Homo sapiens: one gene and its partners. The protein of the gene in region 3 purifies or fractionates together with the protein of the main gene of each other region. This does not show direct contact. Each region holds a gene or a part of one and is shown on either strand. Other genes may lie near its edges.

The links. Proteins that work in one complex are often made in the same cells at the same time.
Region 1: the proteins of LRRC42 (region 3) and SUGT1 purify together in Homo sapiens (affinity purification with mass spectrometry; 3 studies listed by BioGRID and IntAct, with this or other methods). This does not show direct contact.
Region 2: the proteins of LRRC42 (region 3) and ZC3H14 fractionate together in Homo sapiens (co-fractionation; one large-scale study listed by BioGRID). This does not show direct contact.
Region 4: the proteins of LRRC42 (region 3) and AMBRA1 purify together in Homo sapiens (affinity purification with mass spectrometry, with the first as the bait; one large-scale study listed by BioGRID). This does not show direct contact.

What each region holds. Positions count from the first base shown.
Region 1 is NC_000013.11:52,661,621-52,667,211, reverse strand, and holds part of SUGT1 (protein SGT1 homolog), read right to left. Parts: intron 4,564-5,591; coding exon 4,510-4,563; intron 4,117-4,509; coding exon 4,100-4,116; intron 3,178-4,099; coding exon 3,155-3,177; intron 1,576-3,154; coding exon 1,479-1,575; intron 401-1,478; coding exon 293-400; intron 1-292. UniProt on the Homo sapiens protein: May play a role in ubiquitination and subsequent proteasomal degradation of target proteins.
Region 2 is NC_000014.9:88,575,322-88,580,912, reverse strand, and holds part of ZC3H14 (zinc finger CCCH domain-containing protein 14), read right to left. Parts: intron 5,074-5,591; coding exon 4,973-5,073; intron 2,929-4,972; coding exon 2,773-2,928; intron 1-2,772. UniProt on the Homo sapiens protein: RNA-binding protein involved in the biogenesis of circular RNAs (circRNAs), which are produced by back-splicing circularization of pre-mRNAs.
Region 3 is NC_000001.11:53,949,350-53,952,849, reverse strand, and holds part of LRRC42 (leucine-rich repeat-containing protein 42), read right to left. Parts: intron 865-3,500; 5' UTR 851-864; coding exon 378-850; intron 1-377.
Region 4 is NC_000011.10:46,583,148-46,588,738, forward strand, and holds part of AMBRA1 (activating molecule in BECN1-regulated autophagy protein 1), read right to left. Parts: intron 4,298-5,591; exon of another isoform or gene 4,108-4,297; intron 1-4,107. UniProt on the Homo sapiens protein: Substrate-recognition component of a DCX (DDB1-CUL4-X-box) E3 ubiquitin-protein ligase complex involved in cell cycle control and autophagy.

The DNA of each region.
Region 1 (5,591 bases), on a different chromosome or scaffold from region 3:
AAAGACAGGCTGATTATTGTATCTTTTTAAAAAAACCCCTTTATTGAAAAACATTATATCTGTCTTAGTAAATACACAAATGCCACACACTCTAAGTGGATTTTTATTCTTTACTGTACTAGAATTTGAGAGGTAAAATAACCCTTATACTCAAAAGTTATCATTCTTATTTTCTTGTCCCTGTTAAAGGGCTGAAAGAATCTACAAGCTTATAAACACATGGGTGATTAGTTCACCAGTATTTCTATAATTTTGAAAATATTACTAGTAACAAACTTTTCAATGGTCTTACCTTTGTTGAAAGTACTTTAAACGTGCTCTGTTCTGGTATTATAGGATGAAGAAGTTCCAGTTTCAAATTGTAATCCTCTCCAGAAGGAAGTTTAACCAAAGCAGACAACTAATGAACACAAAATTAGCATCACATTTTGTAAATGTATATAATGGAGGGTAAAAAACCTACACAAAATAATGACAAATCTTCAATAATGTTACAAATTATTTTAAACATTATATATGGAATTTTAGATTTAAGAACCTCAAAAGGTTCTCAAAGATTTAAGAACCTTTTTTTTCCATCTGGTATCCTTGACATGAATTCTTATAGACATCATTAAACAGCAGAAAAGAATAAGTTTCATAATATTTGTCATATATTTAATCACACCTATTTGATATTTAGATTTCAAGAAAACATACAAAAGCAAAATGATATATAACAAAAAGTGATCCATGTGCAAAACATACAGTTCTATCACTACCTCTTTTAAATAATCTATTATAAGGTTCTCTACTAAATGGTAAGAAATCAAGTTGTTAAAAGTCATACTCAAGAGGCTGGGCACGGTGGTGCATGCCTCTAATCCCAGCACTTTGGGAGGCTGAGATGGGTAGATCACTTGAGGTCAGGAATTCGACAACAGCCTGGCCAACATGGTGAAACCCCGTTTCTACAAAAATTAGCCAGGCACGGTGGCATGTGCCTGTAGTCCCAACTACTCAGGAGGCTGAGGCAGGAGAATTGTTTGAACCCAGGAGGAGGAGGCTGCAGTGAGCCGAAATTGCGCCACTGCACTCCAGCCTACGCAAGAGCGAGACTCTGTCTCAAAAAACAACAACAAAAAAAGTCATACTCATTTAACATGGCTAGTCAATTCTAAGACATGTGTGATCACAAAACTAACTAGATCTTTTTCATGAAGTACACCACACAAGTATAACCAAAGCACATTATCTTACTAATATAACCAAATTCTGCTTTAAATTTCAAATCTAAAGAAAAAAATGCACATCCAGCTATAATTTACCAACATACATATTCTTACCTCAAAGCAATGGCTTCAGATTTTATTCAACATTTTCCAAATCATCTCAGGAAGAAATAGCATTTATCTGATAAACCGTTATCGATTATTCTGCAATATACTAAATTTGCAAATAATAGTAATCAACATTGAAAAATGATTCAGTCTACTGACCTCTTTTTCTGAAAATTCCACATTTACATCATTCTTCTGAACATTCTTGATCATAAGTGTAATGACTACTTGAGATTCTGTTTGATACCAGTCATACCTATTAAAAAAAAAAAAGAAACTTAGGTAACTCTTCTAATTTTTTTAAAGCTATTGTCAAAACAAAAACTAGTCTGATAAACAACAAGAGCCCCACCTGGAGGAAGAAAACAGCAAAGCAACTACTGATTCACAGAAACAACTTTATATAACTAGTTTTTTATGCTCTGTACTAATGGAAAAAAATGGTAAGGTAAATGATGCTCACACCTTTCCAGTAGACTTAAATACTTGCATGATTTTCTGGGTTCTGACTCATCTCTAGCACTGTTGTGCTTAAACTAATATAAATATTAAAGATGTCATTTATTTTAAACAAGCTAATATTTATATGCCATCAATAGAGTTTTTATACTCTCATTTCATCCAAATACTACAGATAAACACTTAAATCCCTATTTTACAGATGATAAAACTTAAGCTCAGAAAGGTGAAGCAATAAGCCTGAGTCAACACTCCAAGCTCTCAAAACTGATGTTGGAAGCAGATAGACTTGAGCACACAAAACAGGGGCAAATGAACTAAAATTAAAATCATATGAAGTTTAACTGTGTCAGGCACAACATCATATACAACACTTTCCTTCAATTTCAAGATACATGGAAAGACTAATGGGTCTAGATTCTAATTATGTGCATCTTTTGTACTGAAAGCTCTAGAAACGTAGGAATCCTCACTTTCAAATTAGACTAGATTAAAAGCTCTCTGAGGGCAGAGCTGTTTATCCTGTCGCTATTATATCCCTAGGACCAAGCACAGTGTCCGGTACACGTATATTAAGTTAGATGTGGGATTATTTTATGCTCTGAACACCTTAATTATTATTTCATGGTTATGTGCCCTACCCCTGCTGCTGCCACCAGGGCAAGTCAAAGTTCCTTATCTACTAGGTACTTGGAGTTTCATCCTGTATCTCCCCACAACTACCATGAATAGATGGTTTTTAACTTTTCCAGGCCATTTTAGGTAATTATATCCAAAACCACCTTGATTAAAGAAATGAACTTTAAGAGTCTCGGTTTCCCTTTGCAATTCAGTAAGGATGCAAAGCTCCAGATCAACGGCTTGTGTTTCTGTTACGGTCCTAAGAATACAAGCTGTACACAGGCTAATGAATAATTAAAAGTCAAAGACTTGCTAGTTGCTTATTCATTATTATAATTGCTGCCCTCAGCAATATTAACTTTCAACGCATACAGAATGTTCCTATGAAAAATTTGCTCCAAATATAAAAGGCAGGTTAAGTTACAATTCTGTTAGATCTACTACTAACTTGTTTACCTGTGTAGTAACATAAACTTAACTGGAAGAGACTCTCCTTAACATATGGAAAGGTAACATAATATGAAACCAAGTGAAGCAACTTTAAAGATGAGAAATGATTTGAATTTAACTGAAGTACAAATATTAATCCTTAAACAGCCTTAAAATTGGCTTTACATAAAGCTATTACACAATTTTAGAAAACAAACAAAAACTTAAAAATCACATGGTAAGAATTTGCTTACTATTAAACTACAGGGTTTCTTCCTCTTTAGGCATATTTATCATGCATTGTTTTATGAAAAAGAAACACTCACTTGATTTTTGACTGATGAGTCCACTGGGATGCAGATTGATTTTGGTAAGTTGAAAGAGAAAGATTTTTACAAGTCAGTTTAGCAACTGTATTATTAAAATGCATGTATTATTAATTTACCCAACACTGCAGTTATTTTGATATAAAATAACTACATGAAAATTTTCTTCAAAGACATAGTAACTGTAATTGTTAAATACCACTAGTTTTCGGAAAAAAATTAGAATGCTCAGCATTTAAAAAATCTTAGATTGAATTTCATAAAAGATTTTTGCTCTAAAATAACAGAACTTTAAATAACAGAAAACTTCTAAAGGCATGATTAGAAAAGGTTGCTTATATAAAATGGCCAGTTCTAAGATTCAGCAACTTCCTAAACTAAAATAACATTGTTTTAAAAATCGTTTTAAAGAAACAGAGTAATTAGCCAGGCTTGGTGGTGTACATCTGTAGTCCCAGCTACTTGGAAGGCTGAGGTGGGAAGATTGCTTGAGCCCAGGAGTTTGAAGCTCAAGTGCACTATGATGGCACCACTGCACTCCAGCCTGCATGACAGAGCAAGACCCTGTCAATTTCCAATTTTCTTTAACTTTTGTCTTAGCCTATCATAAAAAGCCCTACAAGTGATTCAAACTGTTGAACCTAAATAAATGCAATAAGGTTTTAGTAACGAAAAGATAAATGATCATCATGACCATATTAAAACACACGAAATCAACTTTAACCACACACTAAATTCATTAAAATAGGCCAATAATTTTCATGACTGGAAACTTCTATATTTATCAAAAAATGATTTTATTTCAGTGCCTAGAGGAACCAGCACTTAAATGGAATTGCTTAATATTTAAATATCAGACAGCTCATCCTGAGTCTTGTCTCAAATATATTTGGTAGCTGAAATTTAAAATAATAAAAACATGAAGAATGAAAACTTTGGACTTACCACCTCAGATTCTGAGCCTATTAAAACATAAAAAGGAAACATTTTCAGGGAACAGTGCATTTTTAAGCAAAGTTATTTGTATGATTTCTATAGCACAAACATACTGATTAAGCAAGCAAATTCTCCGTACCTTTCAACTAAAGAAAAGTGGTTTCATTTTGCATCCTGAATTCATTTTAGACTCCTTAGTAATTTCTTACTGATATACCATACAAGCAAATCCACCCAAATCCCCCTTTCAACATAAGAAGCTATGCAAAAACCAGTGTATCTTTGGAAGTCCACATCTAAGGAAACGTATACTATTTAAAAGAAATTATAAAGATAAAAACAAATTTGTTTAAACCAAAAAAATTTCAGATGTTTACTTCTTTTTAAATTGAAACAAATACCAAGGGAGACCCACATACCATTCTGAGCTTCTTGACACCTTTTAATCCAGACACTGAAATTAGCATCTGCACCTAGAAAGAAAAAACTGACTATAACATCACTCATCTGCACAACCTATAAATCAACAAATACTTACTGAATACCTACTACATCCCAGGCAGTGTTCTAGGCACTGGGGAGTCGGCAGCGAACAAAACCTGTCTTAACAGACCTTATCACCAACTCTACTATAGTTATAAATATACCAATAGTTTAACATTTAGTTGTTAATCATGAAACATTTTGATTTTTTAAAAATTTTAACTACAGTCAACCTTAATTTCACAGATACAAATAATCTGCATTTCCCCCAATCCCGCTGCTCTTAGAGAAGCTTCCTCACACACAGAACAAAATCAGATGTAAATCAGACTCCCAATATGCCATCAGTTAGGGTGGGGAGGAGGCTTGGTAACTGGGAGCTGAGTTGAGGTTCAAAAGCCGTTCCCAGCCCCAGCTTGCTCTTCAATGCAGATACCTATTCAGTCCACTATTCTCTCAGTGGCTTTATCTGTTACCATGCCTTTCCTACCAACACCAAGCATCTTTAAATTCCGTGAAGTTTTGTCCTATCTCCAAGTTACATGGCAGTCGAGAGGCTATAGGTGATGTATTATATATTTATAGATAACAGTGTAAATGTATGCATAAACAAATTATTCACTTCTGGAGACACAGAACAATGATTACATTTAAACAGTCACAGTGCATAGTAAGATATGTTAAAAGTATTAAAAGTACTCTAAATAAGAGCTTATTAATTCAAGTTAACTGCAGACAAGATAAATTTGAAAATCTTAAATTAAAAATTTCTTAACAAAAATTTCTACTTTACTAATTTATAAAAGAAATCCAACTATACCAGCATTAATAAAAAATTTAAATACACTCTCACACACACTGTATTCTAGAGAACTATTGTATCAAAATCTATTATATCAAAAAGATTTGAGTAACCTATTATTTTAAGTAATCAGTAACTAAAACCAAGCAATTTATCACACAAAGAGGGGAAAAGGTAACAATTCTTTACCCTGTCTGATAAAAATAGAAGCCTAAA
Region 2 (5,591 bases), on a different chromosome or scaffold from region 3:
ATTTTCTTCCAGCACAAAAGTGATGCTGTTGAAAAGTTTGATGATAATCTACCTTTCCTTTTCTTCTAAGTCATGTGCCCCTTTTGCCTGAATGTCCAAATCATTTTTTTTCTTTTTAAAATTTCATTAATTATATAATACATCTTAGTGTTATGGTTCTGGGTAAATATTCTCAGGTATACTGTACAATTTTTCAGACAACAGTTTCAAACATGTTTTCACTTCATGAAAGTTTTCTTGAAAGACAGTTAATGTTTGCTCTGTTCCTCTGAATATTGTTTCTTTGGAGATTCCTACTATAAAAACACTGTATTTCTATTGCCTATTATCAATATTTGCCACTTTCTCATGAGCCCTTTTAGACTTTTAAAATGTTCTTGTCTTTTATCTTCAATTTCTCTGAAGATGTTTTAATTTTATTTATTTTTAAATTGCTGTTTTCTGTAGCCATAAGGTTTTGCTATGTTGCCCTGGCTGATCTTCAACTCCTGGCCTCAAGTGATCCTCCCGCCTTGGCCTCCCAAATTGCTGGGATTACACGCATGTTTTATTTTATTAAGACGCACTAATTCTTTCGAGTTCTTTCTAATTTAGTCTTCATTTATTTTGAGACACAGTCTCACTCTATCGCCCAAACTAGATGGCAATGGCATGATCATGGCTCACTGCAACCTCAGCCTCCTGGGCTCCAGCAATCCTCCCACCTCAGCCTCCCTGGAGGGCAATGGTATGATCGTGGCTCACTGCAACCTCAGCCTCCTGGGCTCCAGCAATCCTCCCACCTCAGCCTCCCGGGCTCCAGCAATCCTCCCACTTCAGCCTCCCAAGGAGACAGGACTACAGGTGTATACCTTGCCCAGCTAATATTTTTATTTTTTGTCGAGACAGGGTTTTGCTATGCTGCCCAGGCTAGTCTCAAGTGATCCTCCTGCCTCAGCCTCCCAAAGTGTTGGGATTACAGGCATGAGCCACTGCACCCAGCCTCAAAGTTCTTCTGTTTTATGTTTTTCTTGGCTTTGTCTTGTATTATTTAAATAATGTCTTCTAGCTCACTTTGAAATTGTATTTCTTTTTGGTATACCTTTCAGCATGCTTTCATTGAAACAATGCTGTTTTGTCTTTTATTCCCTTTTATCTTTTAATTCGGCACAGGACTTGACCTTGATACTTTTCTGTTGTTCATTTTAGGGGAAAGTTTGCTTTGGATAGCTATTCTAACTTCAGAATCAACAACCTTCTTCTGTTGATTTTGTGATGTTAAAAAATATGGCACCTTGCTTTGAGATTTCCTATTGTTTTCCTCTCCTATTTTTATCTGACATTCTTTCCTTTTCTCTATTGTCTGTTTCCCTGCTCCATCTGATTCCACTCCAAGACTCTCACGTAGAGTCCTGTGTTTGAAGAAAACCTTGGTGCAACACACTACAGACTCCACAGGGAGTAGACCACTGCAGTCCTTTTAGATCAGCCTCATCTGCCACTGCACTGAGCAAAATCCCTCCTCAGTTTCAGCTCCTCTTCTCAATTTGGCCCATTCACATTTTCCAATTGGTACCTATCTGCTGTTTGGGGACCAAACAGGTCTTGTCCTCAGGCCTATCAATTATCAGAATAGTATATAACGCTGTCATGGCAAACTGAACAATACAGTCAAAAATTTTTAAAGAGACACAATGAGGAAACAAATACAGAATTGACAATTCTGAAATCATAAGGTTTCATGAAACCTGGAACAATTTAAAGGACAGTTTTGAAGAAATGAAAAAATATATTCCAAGGTTCTTGAAAAGTATGTGAGAAATAACATAATAAGCATATAGATTTTTTTGGTGGGGTCTTAAAATTCAAATCTTAGTAGAAAAAGAAACAGAAGAAAAAAGAATCCTTCTTGACGACAAAAGAGACAAAAGGTCTGAAGAGTCATGGAGAAGGGCTGTGCAGGCCCAGGGGTCAGATAACAGACACCAAAAGTCCAAACTAATAGCGTTAGTTCTGGGTAATGAGGAGGAGGGGAGAGATACTTTCACAAAGGAGTCAGAAGATGAGAGACACACTTTCAAAGTCAAAAGATTGTATAGGAATTGGGGGAGAAAGCTGAGAAAAAAGCAAAAAAAAAAAAAAAAAAAAAAAACCTGGAAGCAAACTGAAGTATGTTAGGCACGAGGGGATAAATTAGGGTTGCTGGGACACATATGGGAGGTCAGAGACAGGATGCTTAAGAGACGGGAGATTTAAAGGTAACTAAAATTTCAAGTTCAGGTAAACGGGCAGGATCAACAAAAAGAGAAAAAGAAAGAATGCAGAAATAAATATATCTTTAAGAAGGAGCTATCTAAAGACCAGCAAAATTCTGATAATAACTAAGGCTTAATGACTGGGTTCATGAGAGTTCACTGTACTAGCCTTTCCATTTTTGAGAATATTAAAAATTTCCACAATAAAAAGACTTTCAAAAATTTCTAGAAAGGGCTGGGTGCAGTGGCACACACTTGTACACACCTCCAGCTACTAAGGATGCTGAGGCAGGAGGACTGCTTGAGCCCAGGAGTTTGAGGACTGCCTGGGCAACACAGCAAGACCCTACCTCTTTAAAAAAAAAATTTTTTTCTGAAGTGTTGGTATGAACCTTCCTCATGGTATTCTTCTCATTCTATTTCTGGGCTTAATCATCACTTTTTTCATAGTGTAATATTTCATAAAAATCCATTGGAAAATATTCAATGCCTCATGAAAAAACTGTAGTAAAGAGTGAAACATCATTTAAGTTATTACCTTGATTTTTTTCTACAGAATCTCCTTTTGTTTCCTCTTCTTTAATGGGGGGACTTATTCTGGGGGTCCTACTTTGTCCCTGGACCACTTCTGCTAGCAATTCTTCTTGAGAAGTTCGAGTTCTGGGAGCAACTGGAAGTGTCTGTTTCTGTGGAACTTTCACATAAAAGCAAAAAAGATAGAAATACAAATGCAGTAATACGTCAAAACTCCACAGTGACTATGTCATATTAAATATAAATGCCTCCTTTGGTTTAGGACATATGAGTTCAGGCTGGGCGCAGTGGCTCATGCCTGTAATCTCAGCACTTTGGGAGGCAAGGTGGGTGGATCACTTGAGGTCAGGAGTTTGAGACCAGCCTGGCCAACATGGTAAAACCTCGTTTCTACTAAAAATACAAACACTAGCCGGGCATAGTGGCACACACCTGTAATCCCAACTACTCAGGAGGCTGAGGCAGGAGAATTGCTTAAACCCGGAAGGCGGAGGTTGCAGTGAGCCGAGATTGCACCACTGTGCACTCCAGCCTGGGCAACAGAGTGAGACTCTGTCTCCAAAAAAAAAAGAAAAAGAAAAGAAAAGAACATATATATGAGGAGTTCAATCCATAGATACCATTCATTTTTTCTTACGTTACTGAGATAGATACCTGAACCTATTTATCCAAACATATGTAAACAATATCCATACAACCACATACCATGAATACAATATAGTACATATGTATTCATTTTCAACAAAATGCGGTTTATTTAAGCTTAGCTTCATGATCTTATATGAGTTTCAAATTGTAATTTAGATAACCTAGGTAAAGAAAGAAAATTTCAAAGTCATGGAACTTCTCTAAACTTCTCATCATTCTAGACAATTAATATTGCTGATAGATCAGGAAATGAAATGTAGATATATCATTAGGTCAAGAGTGCGCCTTTGCCTGATAATCTTTATTCTATATGCCAAAACCTGTTGAATTTTGTGTTCAAGGTTAAATTAGGGATGAGGAGAACCAAGAGGACAGACAAGTATCAGGATCAAAAACTGATGGTGCCAGGCGCGGTGGCTCACGCTTGTAATCCCAGCATTTTGGGAGGCCGAGGAGGCAGGTGATCACCTGAGGTCAGGAGTACGAGACCAGCCTGGCCAACATGGTGGAACCCCGCCTCTACTAAAAATACAAAAAAATTAGCCTGGCATGGTAGTGGGCGCCTGTAATCCCAGCTACTTGGGAGGCTGAGGCAGGAGAATCGCTTGGACCCAGGAGGCAGAGATTGCAGTAAGCCAAGATCACACCACTGCACTCCAGCCTGGGCAACAGAGCAAGACTTCGCCTCAAAAAAAGAAAACAAATAAAAAAACTGATGGCTACAGTTTACCTCATTTTAGGAAGGGGGGTCACAAAAAAAAGCGAGAGAGTGGATAAGCAGGGCAATGCTGTAAGTACACCCACCAAATCCACAGCAAAACTTAAATCTTTTTAGAGTAGCTCATTACCATCAGCTTCTTAACACAAGTTTACACATTGGCTACAACAGGTCGGCCAGAGAGTACAGAATTTGACAACACAAAATGACACCCATCAGTTGTTTGCATTTCAGAATCAGCTTTCCGTAAGACCAGCTTACAGCTGATTCATCTCCTGTTTTGAAAACGTAATACTTTTATATTCTCTCATAAAATTATTCAGTACTTCCACTAGAATTGGAGCAGGAACATCACAAATGAGTCAATTCTCTGCCTTATATTCTACTAATGAGTTCCGCCAAAAGGGAAGAAACCAACCTTGTTTATATACTACTGTTTAACAAATTTCTATAACTTCAGATACCTATCATTGTCCAATTGTACTCCCCTTTACACATCGTAAATTCATATCTAATGTTGAATCTAATGCTACTAATATGAAAGTCCTACTTCATCAAAATTCTCTTCAAAATATTTACGTACTATATATTTTACACACATTGGAAAGATATAAAAGGCATTATATGGTGCTTGAAAAACTACAGTCCAATAACAGTTGGCGAAGTTTCTCAAACTTGTCAATTTCCTTTTAAAGCCATTTTTCTATATGGGAACCTCATCTTGGTCTTGACATCTGACAGGCACCTTTATTTTACAATTTAAGGAGCAATCATTTTCACCTTACTCAAGAATTACAGAAATGTCTTACCAAGTGTAAACATAATACATTTAAATTACCTGTAGAGTAGTTAGTTGTTTTTGTTACGGATTCTTGAGCTTCAGATATAGCCTTCAAAATCAGATTCTTGTTAGCTTGTTTAGAAGGTGGAAGAGAAGGTCTAAAAGAGTTAAGAAAGGTATTTTTATTAAACTTTAAATTTCAGTTCCTCACAGGCCAGCCATCTATTATGCCTTTACCACAACCTTCTCTAGGTTTTAAACAGACTAGCTGCAGTTTTTAGAAAATGCCAACTACACTGGAACCTTATTTTTTTTTTTAGACAGACTCTTACTCTCTCACCCAGGATGGAGTGTGATGTCACTGCAGCCTTAAACTTCTAGGCTCAAGCAATGCTTCCACATCCACCTCTCCAGTCCAGGACTACAGGTGCCTGCCACAATGACCAACTAATTTATTTTAATTTTTTTTAAGAGACAAAGACTCATTACATCGCCCAGGCTGGTCTCGAACTCCTGGTCTCAAGCAATCCTCCTGCCTCAGCCTCCCAAAGTGCTAGGTACAGGCATGAGCCACCATGCCTAGGCCCCTTTTAGTTTTTTTAAATAATAAATCTGAATCTTAATTGATGTTGTTCCTCCTCACCCCACCATATTAGTCAATATTCTCTGCAATCCT
Region 3 (3,500 bases):
TCTGAAAACCAAAAACAGGCCCAAAAACTCTGGGTACTAATCTCCCCATCTGTAAGAGCGTATCAAGAGATATTTGGCAGATCACATTTTGTCTTTTCTATTTTCTCTTTGAAAGCTGTTAGAATAATATTTTCTACTTAATGGAGGAGCTGTGACAACTAATCCTTGTAAAATGATTTCAGAATAAAGTTAAGTGTCATCTAAGAGGTGAGGAGAAGGAAGAGTGATTTTTTTCAATATGGTCTTTTACTTCATATTTGGAAGTTCTAAACTGAAGTGCTATTTGATGAGGGAAGCCCCTGAGCCCACTAAGCCCCAGAGCTTGACAGAATTAACACACCCAATAAAATACCGAATAATCTAATCAGAACACCCACCTGTTTCGCAAACACAGGGAGCAAAGCACCAAACTTCCATAGGCCTCAGTGAATTTCTGTAAAGCCCTCAGCCCTGCACCTGGCTCAGTGAATTTCTGTCTGGCTTCAGCAGCAGAGAACAGCTTTTCAGCAATCTGCTCAGGAAAGCCAATAAGGGAATCAATGTGATCCACATTGTCGGAGATGAAACCCAGGACAAGGCTGAAGAGGGATTTGGCGGAGTACCGAAGATTCCCCTCTCGGGTGTATGTGAAGATGAAATGATCAGTCTTCTCTTTCCGTGCAGTGTCGTCTTCCCTGTTCATGCAAAGCTCCACAGAAAAGCCTTTGGGGAACAGTCTGAAAGGCCTTGGCTTCTGCAGGCTACTCCTGACACCATCCAGAGCCAGATTGACCATGTGCAGCTGCCCATTTTCTCGCATGTAGATGGGCCCTGGGTCCAGGTGGTTTTCTGAGCTGAGGTAGTAAGACATTGCCTTGGTTGCAACTGTAAAAGCAAGGCACAGGGAAGCAAATCCAATTAAAATGCCATTTGTAACATGTAACTTCATCTTGCTGTGCCCAGGGCTTTATGAGCCTACCAGGCAGGCCTGGTGGCTGGTTTAGGAAAAGCAAAACTCACCAGTTGCCTGGGAACTTTGGCATTCAAGGTTGCCTCTATTGCCGCTACCTGGAATGCCCCTTCCTACTCTTCCCTTTTTCTTGTTTATCTGGCCATCTCCCACTCTTCTTTCAAAACCCAGGTCAAGGCCGGACGCATTAGCTCACGCCTGTAATCTCAGCACTTTGGGAGGCCGAGGCGGGCGGATCACCTGAGGTCAGGAGTTCGAGACCAGCCTGGCCAACATGGTGAAACCCCATCTCTACTAAAAATACAAAAATTAGCCGAGCGTGGTAGTGCGTGCCTGTAGTTCCAGCTACTCAGGAGGCTGAGGCAAGAGAATCGCTTGAACCCGGGAGACAGAGGTTACAGTGAGCCAAGATTGTTTCATTGCACTCCAGCCTGGGTGACAAGAGCGAGACTCCGTCTCAAAAAAAAACAAACAGAAACCCAGGTCAAAATCTCATCTTCAAAATTCATGCTAAGGAAGTTGTCACAGATGTCAGCAAAGATTCATTTATGTGTAAATTAATGGCAGCAAGTTTATATTAGCAAAACAATTGGAAAACGACCTAAATGTCTAACAATTGGGATGTTAATAAATACATTATGACTTACACGTACCATGGAATGTGATAAAGCCATTAAAATTATGAATTTTTAAAAAACATGTTTAGACACAGAAAAAAGACTAGAAATAAATAACTCCCTTGCTAGCTTGACACATTCCACACACTTCTTGGTTGCACTCGGTGCACTGTTGTATTTATTTGTTTCTGAGTCTGCCATCTGCTGCTTTGGGCTCCTTGAGAAAAGGAACCACGCTGAATTCATGCAGACTCTATAACACAGTGTCCTGGCATCTTATAGTCCCCGAGCAGATAGTGTGGAACCAACATTTACTCGTTTGCTAAACTTTACAAAGACCAAAAGCAACAGGATTTTTTTTATCTACAAATAAATACCTCCATTACAAGAGCTACATAAAAACTATTCTAGCCTTTGGAAACTTCGTATCTATTAAAGTTCTATTAGGGCAGTTTTAACATAAAAAAGTCAAACAGTTGGGCATTTCTGCAGTCATGTGGGTAATAATATATGCCCAAGAACTAACTGGAATACTTGTTTTCCTCCTGAGTAACCATGAGATTTCAAAATACATGAAAAATTGCTATGTTACATAAAATGAAGGTATTTGAGGATTATTTCTACAATTTAAAGGGAGAAGAGAGGTAGAATATCATACATGCCTGATAATATCCCTAAAATAATCTGATTGAGTTTTAGAGTGAACCAACTCAGCTTCTTCTGCATCAATGTGGGGCCACAATGTGGCCCTGAAGGCACTTATGAGTGTCAGCACACAATTAGGTCCGTGATCAAAAATGCTGAGTCTCTGGAGATGAAACAATGAACCTGTGTGTGGGAATCAGTACTATCCATGTTTCTCTCAAGGATAATTATGTGTATAAAAGCACATGAGAGAAGAGTACTCTGCCTAGCCCTAGAGCCTCACCCTTTCCTGCTCATCTCCTTATGTCCTACTCTTTGGCCCTGTCATACTACCCAGGTAAACTGGCCATGCTCTCATGTCCCACTGGCCATTGCTCGTTCTGTTCCCTTTGGCTGGAACATCCTTCTCTGCCTACCTGACCTAGCTAATTCCTACTCATCATTAACTTCGTCCCTCTTCTGGGAAACCTTCCCTAACCCCTGCACCAGTACGTGCCTGTCTGGTTTTCCCAGAGCACCCAGTCTCTCCTACATAGCACTTAGGACCATGTACTATGTCTGTTCACTTGTTAATGTACCCAGAGTGGTGAGCTTTTTGAAGGCAAGGTACTTATTTGATTCATCTATCTTTCTCAGGCTTGACATAGTGCCTAGTACTAAGTAAGCCCTCAAAAGATATTTGCTGAACTGTATGAAAGGAAGGGTAAGACCTCAAAGGACAAACTTGGTGCTCTCAGTTGTAGGGCCTGCTGATACTGTTGCTAGGAGCCAGCTCCTTTTCCAGGCAACAGCTGCAGGCTCCTCCCCCACTTGCCAGACCCTTCTGCAGGTGGCAGAGGCAAAGCAGACGATGGGAATATATTGCTACTGGTACTACAAGGGGTGGGAGACAACTAAACTAAAAAACAGGGGAAAAAAATCCTGTCACAGTGCCAGCTCTTATAACCCATACTTTTCTCTTGCCAGCATTTACAGCCCCTGCTGCTAAGGAGACACCTCATTTATTCTGAGCTGTTCCTCCAGTAGGGGTGAGCATCTGGACCCTCCAACCTTGCAGACCTTAATTTTGACTGAGGAATTACGGCAGATGTCCTTTGGTCTTTATCCCTGTCATTTAACATTCAGAGCTCCACTCTACTTGTAGATCAGAAAGCAGACGCTAGGTATGGCCCTAAAAAGGACTGACGTGATTTTAACAACAGAAAGACAAATTCTATGGAACATACCCTATTATAGTGGATGAATACACTGTGAACTCCCTGAGCAATGACACAGGGTCTGCCCATCTG
Region 4 (5,591 bases), on a different chromosome or scaffold from region 3:
CAGAGATATTGATCAATGGAACAGAACAGAGCCCTCAGAAATAATGCCGCATATCTACAACTATCTGATCTTCGACAAACCTGAGAAAAACAAGCAATGGGGAAAGGATTCCCTATTTAATAAATGGTGCTGGGAAAACTGGCTAGCCATATGTAGAAAGCTGAAACTGGATCCCTTCCTTACACCTTATACAAAAATTAATTCAAGATGGATTAAAGACTTAAACGTTAGACCTAAAACCATAAAAACGCTAGAAGAAAACCTAGGCATTACCATTCAGGACATAGGCATGGGAAAGGACTTCATGTCTAAAACACCAAAAGCAATGGCAACAAAAGCCAAAATTGACAAATGGGATCTAATTAAACTAAAGAGCTTCTGCACAGCAAAAGAAACTACCATCAGAGTGAACAGGCAACCTACAAAATGGGAGAAAATTTTCACAACCTACTCATCTGACAAAGGGCTAATATCCAGAATCTACAATGAACTCAAACAAATTTCCAAAAAAAAAAAAAAAAAAAAAAAAAAACAACAAAACAACCCCATCAAAAAGTGGGCGAAGGACATGAACAGACACTTCTGAAAAGAAGACATTTATGCAGCCAAAAAACACATGAAAAAATGCTCACCATCACTGGCCATCAGAGAAATGCAAATCAAAACCATAATGAGATACCATCTCACACCAGTTAGAATGGCAATCATTAAAAAGTCAGGAAACAACAGGTGCTGGAGAGGATGTGGAGAAATAGGAACACTTTTACACTGTTGGTGGGACTGTAAACTAGTTCAACCATTGTGGAAGTCAGTGTGGCGATTCCTCAGGGATCTAGAACTAGAAATACCATTTCACCCAGCCATCCTATTACTGGGTATATACCCAAAGGACTATAAATCATGCTGCTATAAAGACACATGCACATGTATGTTTATTGCGGCACTATTCACAATAGCAAAGACTTGGAACCAACCCAAATGTCCAACAATGATAGACTGGATTAAGAAAATGTGGCACATATACACCACGGAATACTATGCAGCCATAAAAAATGATGAGTTCATGTCCTTTGTAGGGACATGGATGAAATTGGAAATCATCATTCTCAGTAAACTATCACAAGGACAAAAAACCAAACACCGCATGTTCTCACTCATAGGTGGGAATTGAGCAATGAGAACACATGGACACAGGAAGGGGAACATCACACTCTGGGGACTGTTGTGGGGTGGGGGGAGGGGGGAGGGATAGCATTAGGAGATATACCTAATGCTAAATGACGAGTTAGTGGGTGCAGCACACCAGCATGGCACATGCATACATATGTAACTAACCTGCACATTGTGCACATGTACCCTAAAACTTGAAGTATAATAATAATAATAAAAAGAAAAAAAACAAAAAAAACAAATGAATGACTGAAAAATACACACTCTGCTATAATCACTAGAAAGAATTTTTTTTTTAATTTTTCTGAGACAGGGTCTTGCCATGATGATGCCCAGGATGGAGTGCAGTGGTGTGATCTTGGCTCACTGCAGCCTTGATCTCCTAGGCTCAGGCAGTCCTCCTGCCTCAGCCTCGCAAGCAGCTGGAAATACAGGCATGCACCACCATTTCCAGCTAATTTTAAAAAATTGTTGCCAGGCTCAGTGGCTAACACCTGTAATCCCAACACTTTGGGAGGCTGAGATGGGTGGATCACCTGAGGTCAGGAGTTCAAGACCAGACTGGCCAACATGGTGAAACCCTGTCTCTACTAAAAATACAAAAATTAGCTGGATGAGGTGGTGGGTGCTTATAAACCCAGCTACTCAGGAGGCTGAGGCAGGAGAAACGCTTGAACCTGGGAGGTAGAGGTTGCTGAGATCACACCACTCACTGCACTCCAGCCTGGGCGACTGTGCTCTCTGTGCTCTCTGAAACATGTGCTGTGTCCACTCAGGGTTAAATGGATTAAGGGCGGTGCAAGATGTGCTTTGTTAAACAGATGCTTGAAGGCAGCATGCTCGTTAAGAGTCATCACCACTCCCTAATCTCAAGTATCCAGGGACACAAACACTGCGGAAGGCCGCAGGGTCCTCTGCCTAGGAAAACCAGAGACCTTTGTTCACTTGTTTATCTGCTGAGCTTCCCTCCACTATTGCCCTATGACCCTGCCAAATCCCCCTCTGCGAGAAACACCCAAGAATGATCAATAAAAATAAATAAATAAATAAATAATTCCAAAAAAAAAACGCTGGGCATGGTGCCTCACACTTGTAATCCCAGCACTTTGGGAGGCCGAGGCAGGTGGACCACGAGGTCAGGAGATCGAGACCATCCTGGCTAACATGGTGAAAGCCCGACTCTACTAAAAATACAAAAATTAGCCAGGCGTGATGGCACACGCCTGTAGTCCCAGCTACTCAGGAGGCTGAGGCAGGAGAATCGCTTGAACCAAGGAGGCGGAGGTTGCAGTGAGCTGAGATCACGCCACTGCACTCCAGCCTGGGTGACAGAGCAAGACTCCATCTCAAAAAAAAAAAAAAAAAAAAAAAAAAAAAAATATATATATATATATATATATATATATTCCTAGCTTCCCAAATTGCTGGGTTTAAAGGTGTGGGCCACCACACCAGGCATAAAGACTTTTATAATTGGAAAATAACAATAATTTTTTTTTTCTTTTGAGACGGAGTTTCGCTCTTGTTGCCCAGGCTGGAGTGTGATGGCATGATCTCAGCTCACCACAACCTCCGCCTCCGGGGTTCAAGCTATTCTCCTGCCTCAGCCTCCCGAGTAGCTGAGATTACAGGCATGCACCACCACACCCAGCTAATTTGTATTTTTAGCAGAGACAGGGTTTCTCCACGTTGGTCAGGCTGGTCATGAACTCCCAACCTCAGGTGATCCACCCGCCTCAGCCTCCCAAAGTGCTGGGATTACAGGCATTAGCCACTGCACCCAGCCGAAAATAATAATGATTTTTAAAACTGGACGCACTGGCTCACACCTGTAATTCCAGCACTTAGGGAGATCGAGGTGGGCAGATCACTTGAAGCCAGAGTTCAACACAAGCCTGGCCAACATGGCAAAACTCTGACTCTACTAAAAGAAATACAAAAATTAGCCAGGTGTGGTGGCACACACCTGTAATCCCAGCTACTCGGGAGGCTGAGGCACAAGAATCGCTTGAACCCAGGAGGCAGAGGCTGCAATGAGCCAAGATTGTGCCACCGCACCAGAGCAAGACTGTCTCCAAAAAATAATAAAAAAATAATTTTTTAATTAAAAATAAAGATCCATCTTTTTACTTTTTTTTTCCTAGCTAGGATTTGAACCTATATCCTTTTACTTTATTTTGAAGGGTACTGTGGGGAAAGAGGGACAAATATGCTGTTTTAACTTCCTATTCCCTATTAAAGTTTTCCCAAAGCATCTAAACTTCAATCTAAGAATCATTATCATGTGTTCTTTTGGAAAACTTTATTTTGTTATAATAACATTGTTACTAACAACTGGCATATACAGCACCTAGTGCTGTTCTAAATGCTTTATACATATTAACTAATTTAGTTCTTACAACAACTGTATGGTATTTTACAGATGAGGAGAGGCACAGAGAGACTAAGTAACTTGCCCAAGTTGTATAGCTAGTAAGCAGGGGTGCTGGAATTTGAACCAGGCTGCTTGGCTCCAGGACTCAGTGCCACTATGCTGCTATTCAAAAGTCTGGGGAGAGATATTTTTCTGTCCTGTTTTCAGTGGTCGCCTAGAATAAAATACTCCAATTTTCTCTGCAAATCAAATGTGCTTATTAATCCTCTCCAACTCAGCAAAATTTCAGATGCTTCATTATACTATAGGTATATATACCTGTGATCTATTCTAGAGAGTAGAAATAAGTGATGAAATCATGAAATATAAAATTTGCTTCAGCTCATTTTAAAGAAACACAACTTCAGGTCAGGCACAGTGGCTCCCGCCTATAATCCCAACATGTTGGGAGGCCAAGGTGGGCAGATCACCTAAAGTCAGGAGTTCGAGATCTGCCTGGCCAACATGGTGAAACCCCATCTCTACTCAAAATACAAAAATTAGCCGGACGTGGTGGCACACACCTGTAGTCCCAGCTACTCGGGAGGCTGAGGCACGAGAATCGCTTGAACCCGGGAGGTGGAGGCTGCAGTGAGCCAAGATTGCACCACTGCACTCCAGCCTGGGCCACAGAGTGAGACCCTGCCACAAAAAAAAAGTAAAAAATTAAACTCATTAGTCAAGCATGCTAGATATTTATAAGTCCTAGTTATCCTTGACTATGTAAAACCCAGTATTATCATACATTAAATATCAGACACATATTACATGTAGCAATCAATCTTAAATGAAGACTGAAGACTTAGATGGCAGCAAGGAAACTTAAATTTACGCAATTATGATTCGTGATTCCAACTTTTCAAGGGGATTAAGGATGCTATGACTGAAGACTCTAATCCCTGTAAATACCCAGGGCTCGCCTCACTCCTTCTTCCCTCTGTCAGCCCTTGTTTATTTCCTTCAGAATACTTGTTTCAGTCTAAATTTCAATATTTATCAAATACCTATACTCCCCACTGGAATAAACTCCATAAGGAGACCATAAGAACACCTATGTCTACCTTTGTATCCCAACATCTAATGAGTCTTCAATAAATATTTGCTAGATGAACAAACATCTTCATAGGTAAGGGTTGAAACACACAGTCACAATCAAGAAATAGCTCCACAACGTCTGATGGGAATATTTCTGACCTCAGAAAAAAACACGGTACCAAAACAACACACAATGAAGAAAAAAATTTAGGTAGAGAAGTGAAGATTATTAACCCTAAGAGCAGAGGGAGAGACAAAAAATAAGTCAGAAAAGAAATAGAAGGAGGATGGGTGCTGTGGCTCATGCATGTAATCACAGAACTTTGACAGGCCAAGTTGGGCAGATGACTTGAGGTCAGGGGTTCAAGACCAGCCTGGCCAACATGGTGAAACCTGGTCTCTACTAAAAATACAAAATTAGCTGGGCCTGGTGGCACGTGTCTGTAATCCCAGCTACTCAGGAAGCTGAGGAGGGGGAATCACTTGAACCTGGGAGGCGCAGGTTGCAATGAGCCAAGATAGCGCAGCTGCACTCCAGCCTGGATGACAGAGCAAGACTCCATCTCAAAAAAAATAAACAGAAAGTAGCAAGTTGCCCAAGAACTTAAATAACATCTGTTCATTGTTGTTGTAAAATAGCATGGAAGTTAACAATTGAAGAGTACTTTATCCTTTTAAAGCATTTTCACATACTTTTTCTCAATGTAATCAACTTAAGTATTATGATGGGCCGGGCACGGTGGCTCATACCTGTATTCCCAGCACTTTGGGAGGCCAAGGCAGGTGGATCACCTGAAGTCAGGAGTTCGAGACCAGCCTGACCAACATGGTGAAAACCCGTCTCTACTAAAAAAAAAAAGTACAAAAATTAGCCAGCCACATGCCTGTAGTCCCAGCTACCAGGGAGGCTGAGGCAGGAGAATCGCTTGAACCCAGGAGGCGGAGGATGCAGTGAGCCGAGATCGCGCCATTG